Regions from separate parts of the Homo sapiens genome. Here region 2 is linked to region 1. The links come from fine-mapping of genetic effects on gene expression. Tissue or cell type: esophagus mucosa. Region 1 holds a variant in brackets; the other region holds the start of a gene. All regions are shown on one strand. Distances are between the middles of the regions.

Evidence for each region. PIP is the estimated chance that this variant, and not a neighbour inherited with it, causes the effect.
Region 2: SLC16A3 starts here. The variant in region 1 is the best candidate, but not a certain one, in a credible set for the expression of SLC16A3 in esophagus mucosa (GTEx, PIP 0.56).

What each region holds. Positions count from the first base shown.
Region 1 is chr17:82,288,364-82,293,507 of GRCh38, forward strand. LINC01970 (long intergenic non-protein coding RNA 1970) reads right to left here and starts at 4,451. Exons shown (of 2, transcript NR_135639.1): 1 at 4,160-4,451; 2 at 1,683-3,200. RefSeq lists silencers at 4,047-4,096, 4,137-4,386 and an enhancer at 5,143-5,144. The variant G/A (reference allele first, on the strand shown) is at 1,981.
Region 2 is chr17:82,225,896-82,231,039 of GRCh38, forward strand. SLC16A3 (solute carrier family 16 member 3) reads left to right here and starts at 3,147. Exons shown (of 5, transcript NM_004207.4): 1 at 3,147-3,211. RefSeq lists silencers at 2,203-2,432, 2,523-2,602, 2,653-2,792, 2,953-3,272, 3,393-3,552 and 2 more.

The DNA of each region.
Region 1 (5,144 bases):
ACTCCATAACTGTGAGAAGAGAAACACCTGTTGTTTAAGCTGCCCAGGCTGTGGCATTTAGCTGTGGCAGCCCTGGTAATATAGTTAGAAGGTGAAGAAGTGATCGAAAAACAAAACCAGCACCGTGTTGGCTCATAACTTGCAGCATAAATCTCCACAAGTCCGTACCGATATAAGGAAATGACTGAGTAAATAAATAAGTGGGGAGGAGAGATGAATCACAAAGGAATTCCAAGTAGTTTGTGTAGACACTCTGCCCCTAAGGAGGGGAGCCTAACCCCCACACCTTCCTTGGGTGCTGCAAATACTGACTTCCCCACCAAGGGCACCATGTGGAAAGGGGGACTTCGTGGTGGAGAAACCTGACAGGCTCCGCATTGGCCAGGTAACCCAGGCCAGCCCCACCTGTGACCCGGCAGGTGGAGACCATACACCCTTGGTAGGCTGCGATGAGGACGGGACTTCAACCCTGCGGTCTTCCTCCCAAAACCCATATCCCCTGTCTAACCAGGAGAAAGATATCAGACCAATCCCCACAGAGGGACACCCTCCGACACACCTGGCCAGCGCTCCTCAAAACTGCCAAGGTCATCAAACATGAGAGAAGCTGAGAGGAGCCTGAGACCCGAGGACTGAGTGTCCAGGATGGGCTCCTGGGACAGGAAAAGGACAGCAGGTGAAACTGAGGCAATAGGAATCAAGTGCACACCTTAGTCAATTACAATGTGTCAGTATTGGCTCATTAATTACATAACAAACACCAAACTAATGTCAGATGTTAACAACAGTGCCCTCCTATCTATCTTCACATCTTATCTGGAAACCCAGATCTATTCTAAAATAAAACATTTATCTAAAAATAAAAAGGAAAAAGTTGCTGTAGGTTCCTGATTGCTCCCATAGCAGGTTAGGCTCTCCCCCGTCGTTCCTAGCTTGCTAATAGTGGTAACAACAATGGCCATTTAAATCTACCATCTCAAGATGGAAAAAACACATGTACACAAAACGCAGTGGAAGGGCTGGCTACGAGTCAGAGGAATGACAGCAAGGATGGCTGAATAACAAAGAAACAGATGAAATCAGAGGAGCCTTGCCTGTTCTGACCATATTCTACACCTGGGACCCTCTTCGGGAGGCCCAGCCAAAGAAAGAAAGAAGGGCCAGGTGCGGTGGCTCATGCCCGTAATTCCAGCACTCTGGGAGGCCAAGGCAGATGGATCACCTGAGGTCAGGAGTTCGAGACCAGCCTGGCCAACGTGGTGAAACCCCATCTCTACTAAAAATACAAAAATTAACTGGCTGTAATCCCAGCTGCTCAGGAAGCTGACGCAGGAGAATCGCTTGAACCCGGGAGACAAAGGTTGTGGTGAGCAGAGATCGCGCCACTACACTCCAGCCTTGGGGACACAGCAAGACTCCATCTCAAAAAAAATAAATAAAAATAAAAAAGAAGGAAACCGGCTGTGGATTGTGTTAAGTTAAAAATCACAAGATCTATACACTCAGAAAGGAGACTTTACTTCTTATAAAGTCTTATAGCCTGTAAGGTGGCCATTCTGACAGGCTAGGAAGTGTGGCCTCCAGCCTAAGGCCAGAGACAGGTACTTGGAGGGAGGGTGCGGTGAGACAGGAATGTAAGCCGAATGGGTTGGTCAGGTATACATACTCAACAAGTTACAGGAGGCGTTGCGAATATACATGCATGTTTATTCGGACACGTGTGCTGGATAAACATGCATGTTACATATGACCCATGTTCACCTTGGGGTGAAGGCAGCATGTAAGCGTATTACAATTAGGTGGTATACCTCAAAAAGTACTTTCAGGACATGAAGGCACATGAGGGTGCAATCTCTGTAAACCAGCCAGAACCCGTCTATGGTCAGGGTCTCTTATCAGGGAAAAGTTACTGAAACGAGTCTCTTGTCCAAGGAAAGCTCTAGTTACGGCTGGTGGAGCAGGGGTGTGGGGCCAGGGTCG[G/A]CAGGGGGAGGAGCTGCGGTTGTTTCAATGCTGCTTATCTTGAGGCTAGTGCTTGTTTAGCTGCTACAGAAAAAGAGAAACCTGCGGCCTTTAGAACAGAGTTGATTCTTCACGTGCAGGGATGCACGACTTACTTTCACCAGGCCTGGCCTGAGGTCCTGTTTATAATTTGGTATTTTATTGCCACAGAGCCTGTTCTTAGTCTTATGATCTCTATTTTAACATGAACACCGGTCAATTCTGTCTAAACCACACAAGGGAGGGGGTAGAATGAGGTGCCTCTGACCTACCATCCCGTCACGGCTGGAAACTCAGTTTTTTGGCTTTTTTTTTTGAGATGGAGTCTCACTCTGTTGCCCAGGCTGGAGTGCAGTGGTACGATCTTGGCTCACTGAAACAGATTCAAGCAATTTTCCTGCCTCAGCCTCCAGAGTCGCTGAAATTACAAGCATCCACCACCACACCTGGCTAATTTTTTTGTATTTTTAGTAGAGACGGGGTTTTGCCATGTTGGCCAGGCTGGTCTCGAACTCCTGACCTCAGGTGATCCACCCGCCTTGGCCTCCCAAAATGCTGGGATTACAGGTGTGAGCCACCACGTCTGGCTGGAAACTCAGTTTTTAAGGTGTCTCTGGGACCCCTTGGCCAAGAGGGGTCTTTTCAGTAGTTGGGGGGCTTAGGATTTTTTTTTCTTTTTTTTTTTTGAGATGGAGTCTCATTGTCACCCAGGCTGGAGTGCAGTGGCACGATCTCAGGTCACTGCAACCTCTGCCTCCCAGGTTCAAGCGATTTTCCTGCCTCAGCCTCCCGAGTAGCTGGAATTACAGGTGTGTGCCACCACGCCTGGCTAATTTTTATGTATTTTTAGTAGAGACGGGGTTTTGCCATGTTGGCCAGGCTGGTCTCGAACCCCTGACCTCAGGGTGATCCACCTGCCTCTGCCTCCCAAAGTGCGGGGATTACAGGCATGAGCCACCGTGCCTGGCCAAGATTTTATTTTTAGTTTACAATTGGAAGGCTAGTGGGCCGGTGCAGAATCTCGCTGACTTTTGGGTGAGCATGTTGAGGGCCCCCTGCGTCAGCTGCTCTTCTGTTGAACGGTGCAGGGTGGGGAGGCCTGGGCTGCACTGGCCACACAGTCCCCTCAAGAAGATCTTCTACGTGAAACAAAGGAGCACTGAGCGAGGGGAGCTCTGCTCAGAAAGGACCATCTTGCATCACTGAAATTGTGGGAAATGATAACAAAAAATTGAAATGTCGTGAAGAAACACACCAATAAGACCATTTTTAAATATACAGAGGAAGCTAGAAAATACAGAAAGAGGAACCATTCGGACAAGATACTCAGGAAATATCCAGGATTGTTATACCTAAAACAGCCCTCACTGCCCCCCTCCTGGCAGCGCACCTGAGCCCGGAGCCTGCCAGGGACAGCTCTGAGGAGCCAGGCAGGGCCAGGGATGGGCTCTGAGGGGCCAGGCAGGGCTAGGGATGGACTCTCGTGCCTGCCTGCTTGAGGCTTCCTTGGTCAGAGCGAGCGATGCCACCTTTAGGATGGCCAGAATTAGCAAATAAAAATATGGGATGCCGATAAATCTGTACTTCAGATAAACAATTTTTAGTACATGCCCAACGCGGTAGAGGTAAATCTATAGGGGCTGAAGCAGATTTGCTGGGCCGTGGGCAGGGTGGGGAGTGAACGCTCATGGGCACGGGGTTTCTTTCTGGGGCAACAGAAACGGTGTCACATGAGATAGTGAGCATGGCCGCCCATCTCCGAATATACGGCAAAGCCATAAGCTTTCAATAAGTGAATTTCACAGTAAGTGCATTATATTTCAACAAATCTGTTTTAAAATCTTAACTGAGCCGGGCGTGCTGTCTCAGGCCTCTAGTCCCAGCTACTCTGGAGGCCGAGGCGGGAGGATCGCTTGAGGCCAGGAGTTCAAGACCAGCCTGGGCAACATAGCGAGACCCCATCTCTACAAAAAACACGTTAAACAAAAACGTTAATTGGGCGTTCCGTGTTGTATCCAGCAATCCTAACCGCCCTCCGTCCCCGCGAGCCCCAGTCCTTCCCCTGCGGCTGGGCTGGGTCCCCCGTCCCGGGCGGTGAGGGCGCCCTGCAGGCGTCCACAGAGCTGGGCTTCCGTGGCGGCAACCCTAACCCCAGCGCCACCTGGTACGGCCCGGCCCGCGGGTCCCTCCGGGTCAGGACGCAGACGCGCCCGCGGCGGTAACCGGGGGCCCGGGGGCCTCGGGCCCACCCCGGCCAGACCCCGGGGAGGAGCGCAGGACACTGCCCGCGCCGGGACTCGGCTGTTTCCGATCCTCCCGGGCGTCCTTTAGGAGACTCATTCGCAGCCGACGTTGCGGAGGCGCAGGAAAAGGGCGAGCAGGTGCCTCAGGGACACCACTTCCAACCGCACGCCGATCGCCGGCTCCACCATAAATAGAAACGGGTGGTCTCTAATTGGCCTAGCTCTAATTGGCCTAGCTGTTGTCACGTGCTCTCCGATGGCCCAATCACTAAGGCTGGACGATGCTGCACTGTGAATGGCCAGGCCCGAGTCATGTGCCCGGAGAGGGCGGGGCTGGGCCCTTCCGCTCGCCGCGTCTGGCGATCGCGGCTACGGAGACCCAGGAGGGCCCGGCCAGGAGACCCGCTCTCTAGAGCGGCGAGGGCAGGGGTTGCTAGGGCGCCGGGGTCGAACCCGCGCTTCCTGCAAGTCTTAGGGCCGCATCCCTGCCGAGGCGGGCGTTGGGAAGGGTGGGAGATGGGAAGGTGCGGTGGTGCGGGGAGGGGAGGGCGCCGGGAGGGGTCGGAGAGGGGTCGCGGGTTTTGGGGCTGCGAGGAGGGAAGGAGGGAAGAGGAGGGAAGAGGAGGGCAAGGGGAGGGGAGGGCGGGGAGGAGAGAGGGCGCGGGCAGGGGAGTGGAGGGCGCGGGGAGGGGAGGGCGCGGGGAGGGGAGGGCGGGGAGGAGAGAGGGTGCGGAGAGGAGGGCGGGAAGGAGAGGGGACGGGGGGAGGGAGGGGACGGGGGGAGGGAGGGGAGGGTGGGGGAAGGAGGGGAGGGGAGGGTGGGGGAAGGAGGGAAGGGGAGGGGAGGGGAGGAGAGGGCGGGGAGGGGAGGGGAGGGCGCGGGCTGCGGGGCTGCGGGGAGGG
Region 2 (5,144 bases), 62 kb before region 1:
CCTTGGAGAAAAGCCTCTCCGCATTTCCTAAGTCATTTCAGGACACAGAGGTAGGGACTCTCGGGGCAGCCCATGGGGAGGAAGCAGATCCCAGCCTCCCCTTCCTGCCCGCCCCCCTCCCACAAAGGTTGCTCTTGGAAAAGGTGGGACTGCGCACCCCAGGGAGCTTAAGCCTGCCAGGGAGCAGGGTGGGAAGGACCTGGGGGCCAGGCCCCTAGGAGGACATTCCAGGGCCTGGAGGGCCCTGTAGCTGGAACTGGGAACAAAAGGAAGTTGGGGCAGCCAGGGGCAGGTGGAGGCACCTGGGTCTGGGGGAGAAGTCAAGACTGGGGGCTGTGGGGTCAGAGGGGGGCGTCCTGTGAAGCTGCTCACTGGCCAGGGATGGTGCCACCTGTCCACACCCCCACCTCCTTTCCTGCAGAAAAGGGCGGCCTGGGCCTGGGGTCTGACCCAGGGCCACTGTGGGGGAGCAAGCGTTGGAGCCAGGTGTGGGGTGGGTGCTCCCAACACCACCCAGAGTGGGGTGCAGAGATGCGGACACACGTGGCCTTTCCCACCCCTTCCCGCAGCTCCAGACCCCCAGCGGGCCAGGGGATCGCACCATGGCCAGAAGTGCCTCTCCCCTGCACCATCGCTGTCTCTGACACATCCAGGGTTGTTGAGGGAGGGGCATGACCCCCAGAAGGCATCTTACCCGAAACCAAAGTGGTATTCCGTGCCCAGGTGCCCCTGGAGCCCTGTGTCAGATGGAGCCTGGCCACCTGGGCCCTGGTGCCAGGCCTGGAATGCCCCCCGCCACCAACTGCTGGGCCTTTCTAAAAGCTGAGCACTTGGAGGTCAGGGGTACCTCATGCTACCGGAGTGCCAGAATCCTCGGAGAGGGGCCCAGGGTCTCGGAGGCTCTGGCCCCACCCCACAGCGTCCTGTTCTGTCCAGGCTCCGGGTGAGCTGTCCCAAGTGGCCTGCTTGATAGCTGCGCTGCCTGTTTCCTCTGGGTAACAACCTGGCAGGCCCCCAGCCCCAGCCCCCAGCAGCCATCACATCACTGTGACCACTCTGTGGTCTTCCAGTCCCCCCAGTCAAAGCCCACAGACTTGACCTCTCTGCTGGGAGCCAGTGCTGACTGGCCTGCCTGCTCCCCTCCCCTCTGAGGGCAGGGAGGCTCCACCCCAGCTCTGGGTGGACAGTCCTGGGGCCCACACCCAGGGGAAGCCATGCCTAAGAGGGGGCCAGGCCTGGGGGTCAGAACCAAACCACAGGTGCTCCCTGGGACCCCTGGAGGGATGACTGGGCGTCTTCCCAGCTGGGAGAAAACCTGGCCCTGGCAGGGGCGCCCCTTTGTCCTTCAGGAGGCAGGAGGGGGCAGTGAGGTCCCAGGCTCTCTGGCTCTGTCTCCCTCCCCCTGTTGCTGCTCTACGGTGGGGGTTCAGGGTTCAGGGATCAGGGCCAAGCTGTAGGCAGATGTGGAAGGTGTCTCGGTGGCTTCAGTGGGGGCCCCAAGCCCAGCTGGCAGGCCTGGTGACTCAACAATCTGGGATGGGGAGCACGGTACCCTCGCCTCCCCGGCAGGCAATACCCCATAGGGGACCCATTCCCGCAGCTGTCCACGGTGCCTCGCACCCCTCTGCTGCTCTCCCTCCTCAGAAACTGATGAATCGCCTGGTGCAGGAAGATGGGAGCACCACCTGCCCTGGGCGGGAGCACCACCTGCCCTGGGCGGGAGCACCACCTGCCCTGGGCGGGAGCACCACCTGCCCTGGGCGGGAGCACCACCTGCCCTGGGCGGGAGCAGCACGGGCCAACTAAGTAGAGTCTTCATCTGTGAAGTTGGAGGCCCCCTCACCACTTGCCACAGGCCTGTGTTCTGCTCACAGGCACGTGCCCTCATCTTGATGTTTGGGGATGGGGGTGGTTGGGCCCCAGGTAGGGGTGAGGGCCAGACCCAGCCTCTGTGAATGCCAGCGGGAGGGTGGGCTTGTAACATTACATAGAAAGAACAGGCGGCCTTACTGGACCTGATGTCCCGCAAGGCTGGGCTGCAGATGGAGAGCCAAGGCCCACACGGCCTCACTGTCAGGGGTGGCCTCCCCTTGCCCTCTGGAGGGGTCCTCCATTGATACCCCCTGCCTCCTTTGTGTGTGAAGGCACGGGCTTACCAGTGCCTCGGTCCCCGAAGCCCCCGGGTCCGGGAGGGGCCAGTTAAAGCATTCCTGTGGCCCTGGCAGGGTGGCCCTGACAACTAGACTCCTTGGTCCAGGCCAACAAAGGCCTTACTCCCTGGAGCCACCTCAAACCTCAGCACCCAAAGCGGCCCGTTATTTCCATGTTGCAAATGAGAGAAAACAGGCTGGGAGAAGCACCTCACGAGGTCCAGCGGGTGGGCAGCCCTCGCCTCCCCGAAGGTGGGAGCCGCCCCGGCCTCCGCGTCGGGTTCTGGGCCGCGAGAGGGGCGGGGCAGGGGCGCAGGGCTGGAGTCGGTGGCTTTGTAGGGCCCCGCAGGGCGCGGAGCCACCTGGGGAAACGGAAGTTCAGGGAGGGCGAGGCCGTGCCCCACATCCAGGCAGCGCAGGCCGCGGGCCGCTCCCCTAGCCAGGAAGAGCCGCCGTCCGCACCGGGACCGGAGAGGAAGCGGAGGTCTGAAGGGGGACAGGTCGGACGTGGCCTCAGAGAGGGAGGATGTGGGCCCCGGAGCTGAGCCAGGCGGCCGGAACCCCACGGGACCCGCGCGCACCTCCCCACCAAAGGGGCCCCGGCGTTGGGGGGCGAGGGGTCGCTGCCCTGGAGGACGTTGGGACCTGCCGCGCTGCGCTCCGAGGCGGGGAAACGGAGGGACGGCGGGGCGGAGGGGCGAAGCGAGCCTGGACTCCGGGGGAGGCGAGGCCGGGAAGACCCAGTCCCGAGGAGCAGAGGGGGCGGGCCAGCTCCGGGCCGGGGGCGCCGACGGGGCCGGTTCCGGTTGGGGGGGTCCCTGGGCCCGGCGGGGTTGCGGGACGCGCCGTCGGGGAGCTGCGGCCCGGGAGCCCGTCCGGAGGCGGCGCGGGGTCCGGGCGGGGCGCGCAGGGGCGGCGCCAGGCGGTGACGTGCGCGGGGGACGTGCCGCGCCAGCGACCCGAGCACTTAAAGTCGCCCCCGGCGCGGAGCGGACCGGCAGAGGCGGGCAGAGGCGGCGAGAGGCGGCGAGAGGCGGGCTGAGGCGGCCCAGCGGCGGCAGGTAGGCGCGGCCGCGATGCTCGCGCGCGGGCCGGGGCCCAGGAGCTCCCCCGTGCCGGGCAAGGGGGCGACCTCGGGGTCCGCGCTCTCACCCCCACCCCGCCCACTTTGTCCATCAGGTCCGGGGGCGCCCGGGGCATGGACTAGCCTTCTCGACCCCGAGCGGGCCCCACCGAGGGCTCCCGAGAGCCAGCCGCGCCCCTCCGCGCCCTCGCATACCTGGCTGCCCAGTCTCGTCTCCCCCGGTCCGGCCCGGCGCCCACCCGTCGGGCTGCCCTCAGGGGCTGGGCTCGGGCCAGGAGATGGCTGCGCCGGCGGCCAAGCCCGGTCCGGGTATAAATAGCTCGGTCCGCGGTGGCGGGGGGCGCGGGCTATATTTGGTGGGGCTGCTGCAGCCCTCCCTGTATGGGTGGCCTCCCCGAGGGAGTGGGGAGCACTTGCGCTCGGGCCGTGGCGCTTTCCCCTGTTCGCAACACCCTGAACACTCCCCGACCCACACCCGCCCTTGGGCAATGACTAACAGCCCGAGACCGTGCAGGGAAGTGGGGGACCCTCTCCAGAGCCAGGCTGGGCTCCCTGGGTTCGCCCTACCTCCACCCCTGGCCCCCAGCTCGTGGGAAAACCAGGCGCAGCCTTTGGTAGCCTCCCACTTCCTAACCCACGCCTCAGTTTCCCTATACGAAAAGTGGGTTGGTCAGGAGCCTCCCTGGGTGTTGGGCCAGTCAAGAGACAGGAGCCGCAGAGTGGAAGGGAAGCCCTTAGCTCTGGCCGGGGCCTCCAGGGGTGGCTGGAGTCGGTGAGGGACGATGGGGGGAGCCGAGGGGCGGCTGTCCTCCTCTCTGTCCCAGAGGCATGGGCTGAAAGGGTCCCTCTCCTGGTGATGGCCAGAGTCAGGCCTGCTGGGCGGGAAATGGCAGTTGGCCCACCCCAAGGCCCAGGGGCTTGTCCATGCTGAGCACAAGGGTGGGAGGTCTTGTGTCTGTTGGGGCCGGGGAGTCCAAGGTCCCAGCTTCACTGCACAGGCCTGGAAGTCAGGTGGGTGCTGGCCTGACCCTGCTGAAGGAGGGTCTATTCCGCCAGCGTGGTGTGGAGGCGGCTGGGCTCGACTCCCTCATGGAGGGAAGGAACTGAGGAGGTGCTAGGAGGCCGTGGGGGGGTGTCTGCCCCCAGAGAGGCTTTGAGTGCATGGGGGCTCTGCCGTGGCACGTGCAGCGTCTGTCCCCCAGGGCCCCATGGTGTGGACAGAGTCTGGGGTGGGCACCTGGAGGCCTGGTCTCAAGGCAGGCTTGGTAACGACCCCATGTGACCTTGGGCAGGGCCCGCCATCCAGGCCACCCAGAAAGCCATGTGGCCTGCACGATCAGGCCAGACCCCACTGACTGGAGCGGGGCACTTTACTTTGGAGGGGCAGCTACCAGAGGGCTCTATGGATCCCAGCCCAGCCGTCAGGCCGGACGGGTCCCCCCTACTGGCCTGCAGTGACCCTTATGCCAGGCTCGGCTGGCTCAGCGGTGGGTCCTGGGGTGACCTGGCCACGTGGGACAGAAGGGCCTGTGCCGCTCCCTCCAGTGAGGTGCCAAATGTGGGCCACACTCTGGGCCCCAGCGGGGGCCTTCCGGGCAGTGGCGCAGAGCCATTGGAGGTGCCCGGGCCCTGGGGCAGGGGCGGGGCGGGAGCAGACAGAGCTCAGGGCGTCCTCCTAGCGTCACCTGCCCGAGTCAGGCCCATCTGTGAAATGGGCCACGCCGGGCAGCCGCACGCAACGGAACCGAACCGCCGGGCTCCTGCTCCGAGACCCGCAGTTCACGAGTCGACGCCCCCGAGTCCCGAGCCGCGCCCACTGGTCCCACCTCTGCAGCAAGTGGAGTCGGCCCCGCCCTGTGGCTTCGAGGCCCCGACGCCTGGCGCGGCTCCCGGGCTCCGCTGACCCCGGT